2 separate regions of the Homo sapiens genome follow, and region 1 is linked to region 2. Evidence: fine-mapped expression QTL. A gene starts in region 2. The other region holds a variant in brackets. All regions are shown on one strand. Distances are between the middles of the regions. Region 1 overlaps C19orf18 (chromosome 19 open reading frame 18). Region 2 holds the start of ZNF418 (zinc finger protein 418).

Evidence for each region. PIP is the estimated chance that this variant, and not a neighbour inherited with it, causes the effect. A credible set is the group of variants that fine-mapping cannot tell apart.
Region 1: its variant is the best candidate, but not a certain one, in a credible set for the expression of ZNF418 in whole blood (INTERVAL, PIP 0.50).

The regions. Positions count from the first base shown.
Region 1 is chr19:57,957,455-57,960,366 of GRCh38, reverse strand. C19orf18 (chromosome 19 open reading frame 18) reads left to right here. Exons shown (of 6, transcript NM_152474.5): 6 at 1,650-1,930. The coding sequence ends at 1,765. Among named protein-coding and RNA genes, the nearest start is that of ZNF256, 11 kb to the right of the region's middle. The variant C/T (reference allele first, on the strand shown) is at 1,582.
Region 2 is chr19:57,934,063-57,936,974 of GRCh38, reverse strand. ZNF418 (zinc finger protein 418) reads left to right here and starts at 1,573. Exons shown (of 6, transcript NM_133460.3): 1 at 1,573-1,814. RefSeq lists enhancers at 1,606-1,695, 1,288-2,170.

The DNA of each region.
Region 1 (2,912 bases), 23 kb before region 2:
GCAAGCTCTGCCTCCCGGGTTCACGCCATTCTCCTGCCTCAGCCTCCCGAGTAGCTGGGACTATAGGCACCCGCCACCACACCCAGCTAACTTTTTGTATTTTTAGTAGAGACGGGGTTTCACCGTGTTAGCCAGGATGGTCTCGATCTCCTGACCTTGTAATCCACCCACCTCAGCCTCCCAAAGTGCTGGGATTACAGGCATAAGCCAATGCACCCCGCCTGTAGAATTTATTTTATTTATTTATCTTTTTTTTTTGAGACAGAGTCTCCCTATGTCACCCAGGCTGTAGTGCAGTGGCGAAATCTTGGCTCACTGCAACCTTTGCCTCCTGGGTTCAAGCAATTCTCCTGCCTCAGCCTCCCGAGTAGCTGGGATTACAGGCGTGCACCATGACCCCTGGCTAATTTTTGTATTTTTAGTAGAGACGGAGTTTCACCAGTTAGCCAGGCTGGTCTCGAACTCCTGACCTCAATTGATCCACCCGCCTCGGCCTCCCAAAGTGCTAGGAGTACAGGTGTGAGCCACCGCTCCTGGCCTTTTTTTTCTTTTTTCTTTTTTTTTTTTTTTTTGAGGCAGAGTTTCACTACGTCACCCAGGCTGGAGTGCAGTGGTGCAATATCAGCTCACTGAAGCCCCAACCTCCTGGGCTCAGTTAATCCTCCCACCTCAGCCTCCTGAGTTGCTGGGACTACGGTGCATGTCACTATGCCGGGCTCATTTTTGTTTGTGGTTTCTTTTTGAGATGGAGTCTCGCTCTGTTGCCCAGGCTGGAGTGCAGTGGTGTGATCTTGGTTCACTGTAACCTCCGCCTCCTGGGTTCAAGTGATTCTCATGCTTCAGCCTCCCGAGTAGCTGGGATTACAGGCACATGCCACCACGCCTGTCTTATTTTTGTATTTTTAGTAGAGATGGGGGGTCTCACCATGTTGGCCAGGCTGGTCTCGAACTCTTGACTTCAAGTGATCCGCCCTGTTCAGCCTCCCAAAGTCCTGGGATTACAGGCATGAGCCACTGCGCCGGGCTAGTTTTTGTATTTTTAGTAGAGACAGTTTTCACCATGTTGCCCAGGTTGGTCACAAACTCCTGGGCTTAAGAGATCTTCCCGTCTTGGCCTCCCAAAGTGCTGGGATTATAGGTGTGAGCCACTGAGCCCAGCCTAGAAGTTCTGAGATTCGTGGGTACCTGTTTAAAAAATTCTAGAGAGAAAACTATAGAGAGTGTAGTGTGTGATTCAGACATACTAACCATCCTCACATGGACTCACTCTCTAAAAACTCCAGACATAGCCAGAAAGAGGCAGAACAGCCACAGCAGGAGAGATCACTGATGCTCACTGAGGCAGAGGACTTTGTCATAACCTGTAGAAAACATTTTCCCAATGTCTCTTTACCACATTGGATTATAAATTTTCTACATTCTTCTTCTTCTTTTACTGGGCATTTATACAACTTGAATACAAAATATGGGAAAATAATTTTAAAATTTAATTTTCACCATCCTTGTCAGACAAATAACATTCATTATGAATCCTCTGAAAATTCCACTGTTGGTACCTCTATTTTTCCAGGCTTTTTCCCT[C/T]ACCCCTTTTGTCTCCATTTTTATTCCTCACTTATTACTATCTCAATAACATCATTTCTACATTTTAGTTATTATATCAAAAAGAAGCAAAAATATTAAGAAGAAACTGAAGGAAGAGCAAAACTCAGTAACAGAAAACAAAACAAAGAATGCGTCACATAATGGAAAAATGGAAGACTTGTGAACGCAGACGACAGAGGTGCCGGCTGAGGCAGAGGAGAAACTATGGGGGTGCTGGGAGACTGAGCCTGTGGGCGTGGCTTGCTCCCAGAGAACCTTATGGAAGAGGACATCAAAGAAAGAAATGCCAGACCTGTATCCCAGAAAATAAAGCCACATGATATAGCAACTCTTGCTTATTGGCTCTCATAGTTGATGAATAATTATAACTTAATTGGAAAATAGAATAGAATCCAACTTTGTTAAGGGTTAAGAGAACTTGTCAGGATTTTCTTCTCTTGCTCCTGACCAGAAATACCGCACAAGTAGTTTTGGGGGGCCATCTCCCAGACTAGCCAGGGAATAGCTTTCATGAAGCAAAACTTTCCTGGTGAGATTACCTGTCAGCTCCATACCTTGTTTCCTTTGTACACATGAGGAAACTGAGGATGTTAAAATAAATATGACTCCGGATTAAAACACACTCATCATTAGTCAGGCATGGTGGCATGCGCCTGTAATCCCAGCTACTCAGGAGGCTGAGGCAGGAGAATCGCTTGAATCCGGGAGGCGGAGTTTGCAGTGAGCCGAGATCGCGCCACCGCACTCCAGCCTGGTTGACAGAGCAAGATCCTGTCTCAAAAATTAATTAATTAAATAAAATAAATAAATAAAATAATTAAATAAAATAAGTAAAACACACTCATCCAGGCCAGTCATGATGGCTCATGCCTGTAATTCCAACACTTTGGGAGCATGAGGCAGGCAGATTGCTTGAGTCCAGGAGTTCAAGAGCAGCCTGGACAACATAGTGAGTCCCCGTCTCCACACAAAAAAGAAATACACACTCATCGCCGTCAGGTTCCAGCTCTCTTGAGGGAAACAGGCCCACAGGCAAGGAGCTAAGAAACACGGCCAGAGGTAGCAAGTGGACACCAAGGGCTGTGGGAATGCAAAGAGGCAAGAGTGAGTGAAACGGTGCGGCTGTTTTGGAAAACAATCTGACGGTTCCTCAGAAAGTTAAACATAGAGTTACTGTATGACCCAGCAAGTCCACTCCTAGGTGTACATGCAAGAGAACTGAAAACACATGTACACACAAAAACCTGCACACTAATGTTCTTAGCAGCACCATTCATAAGAGCCAGAAGGTGGAAACAACCCAAATGTCC
Region 2 (2,912 bases):
GAACGAGACTTTGTCTCAAAAAAAAAAAAAAAAAAAAAGAAAGAAAAACTTCTGTGAAGTGTAAATTTTTTTCACCATCCACTCATGTTTCAATTGACCTATTTCTGTCATCGCAGTTATTAGATAGTCGTTGGTAATAAGTTTCTGTAACTGGCATTTCACCTGTTTTTCTGGTATCATATTAGTTCCTCATGCAGAACACTCCCCGCTGTCACAAGAGAAACAAATGATAATCACTTCCCAGGAAAGATAACAAGCTCGATAATTTAACATACGCCTAGTGTCTCCAGGTGGAGATTATCACCACCATTACCAATACCAAGCTGAGATTTCTCTTTCATTGTTCTTTACCTGAGACTGACTTCAAGTTCCTAAAATGAGTTGAAAATATAAGTTAGAATACCAAGTAAGGGATATTACATGAATAAATGTTTTGCTGAATGAATTGGACACAATAATTGACTATATAAGCAGGAGAGTTGTTTTTCCATGGGAACGACTGATTGACCTTTGTACTCTTTCTTTAGCCTCTCCTCTATCTTCCTTGGCATGGTCCTATCTGGATTAGTTCTCTTTTGTCCCTGGCAGACTGAAAAACCAACTCTAATGCCTCAGAGTGAGGCAGGAGAATAGGGAATTAGGGTAACCAAGAATGAAGGCATAAGCAAAAGAACAGCAGGTGCAGCTAGTTCTAGGCAAGATGAGGCAGCACACAGGCCACGTCCTCACTCCTGTGGTAACAAGACAGAAGTCTCCACTTCAGCCTCTGATTGGTTGTGCACCAGTCCTTCATAGGATTGGAGGCCTTTAAAGAACTCTTGGGGTATTATAAAATTCTAGCTTATTCATGGCAAAAACCGCAATTACTTTTGCACCAACCTAATAAAACCCTAAAAAACATTGTAATCGGGGTTCTTGAGCCGCTTGGTCGCCTGCTCCCACACCTACATTCCACTTCTGTGGAGTGTACTTTCCCCTCAATAAATCTGCGCTTTCATTGGTCCGTTCTTTCGTTGCTTTTTTTGTGTGTTTTGTTCACTTCTTTGTTCAATGCGCCAACAACTGGACAACTCACAGCCAAGACATTCTATCCGGTAACAAGAGTGCATTCATGTGAATTATAACAGAGTAATGTTTATCAGCCTCTGCTTCCAGTGCAAGCATTCTGTGTCTAAACGATTGTATAAAGTGATACACGAATTTGGATTTGTAGCCTTTGGGGGCCTTCACAGTATTTTTAGCGCCTGGGAGCTTGAATTTACAGAAATGTGAATTAATATTTTTGCAAACACTTAGGTGGTCAGTTACAAACAGGGATTCCCCAGGAATCTCAATATGGCCTCTAAGGAGGGGCGAGACCATCCTCTGCCCTAAAAGGGTACGCGCTTTAATGAACCCCCTGAGGTAGGGCTGGGACTTCCCTGCAGAAGCGCCTTTGGGAAGCGGCAGCTTTACTACCTTGGAACCTGGGGAACTACATTACCCAGAAAGCTCTACATTGAATGACAGCGCAACAGAACCAGTAAGGGCTCAGAATAAAGGCGTTTCTGTGTGCGCACGTAACGTAGTGGCGGGATTCTCAGCGTTCTCTGGTAGCGACCATTTTGGTTAATGTTGGGTGTGTTTCTGCGGTTTGTGAGGTGAGAGGCGCTGGAGCTATGGGTCCGAACCGCGGTGTCTGAACCCAGAAGGTGAAGAGTCCTTCTTGCTGCACAGAGGCAGATCTTAGGCCCCGTAACGGCGCCCGCCGCTCCCGGCAGTGCTTTCCCCGCGTACTCGGGATGGCGGCGGCCGCGCTGAGGCTCCCGGCTCAGGTAATTGTGCCTTCCCTGCCCTCAGGTCACCTCATCCTAACCCGAATCCTGAAGCAGCGAGAGAGCGGCGACTGTTCACAGGTCTGCAGCCCGGACCCGGCGTCGGGACACTGAGGCGTTCGCGGGAGAGGTCCTTGTTTCTGACACCTGTGGGATGCGGTGGGGAGAGCGACAGGCACAGGGACCGGCGCGGGCTATGGCCTGGAGGACAGACCCGGGAGGATGGAACCTGGGGTCCACAGGCGCCTGTAGGGAACAACGTGTGAGGCGAAGCTTCTCCTGGAAGAGCAGGCTGGGGGCTGTGTATTCGCTGTGAAGACGCTAGAAGCCATGGAGAGTTTCGAAGAAAGGAGGGATGCGATCCAAGTCCAGGCTTTTAAGGTTTCCCAAAGGCCAAAGGAAGAACATAGTAGAGGAGATGAGGACCTTAGGGTTCTGGGAGGTTGACTCCTTTGTTGATAGATCACATAGGTGGTAGAGATGACATTTTGCACTGAGACACGCAGGTCAACCAGTCTGAGGTCACCTGGCTCCAGCGATAAGAAAAGGTTCAAGGAGACCTGAGCTTATCAGATCCCCTTTGTAACGTCTGCTTTCCCCTCAGACACTCCTGGCTACAAAAGCACGTAAAGAACCCACTGAGGGGGTCGGGCAAGGTGGCTCCCACCTGTAATCCCAGCACTTTGGGAGGCCGAGGCGGGCGGATCACCTGAGGTCGGGAGTTCGAGACCAGCCTGACCAACATGGAGAAACCCCGTCTCTAACAAAAATACAAAATTAGCCAGGCGTGGTGATGCCGCATGACTGTAATCCCAGCTACTCAGAGGCTAAGGCAGGAGAATTGCTTGAACTCGGGAGGCAGAGGTTGCGGTGAGCCATTGCACTCCGGCCTGGGCAACAAGAGCGAAACTCTGGCTCAAAAAAAGGAACCCACAGAGGGAATTAGAGGGTGTTCCATTCCCTCACTGGCCTTATTCCCCATTCACATGTTCTCTAGCTTGTGATGTCCTGGGACTCTTACTTGCCATTTTTTCAGTCCTTTGATCTGAGAACACTGGAGAAACCCTAAACCCAGAATCCTAAGTCCATGACACAGGA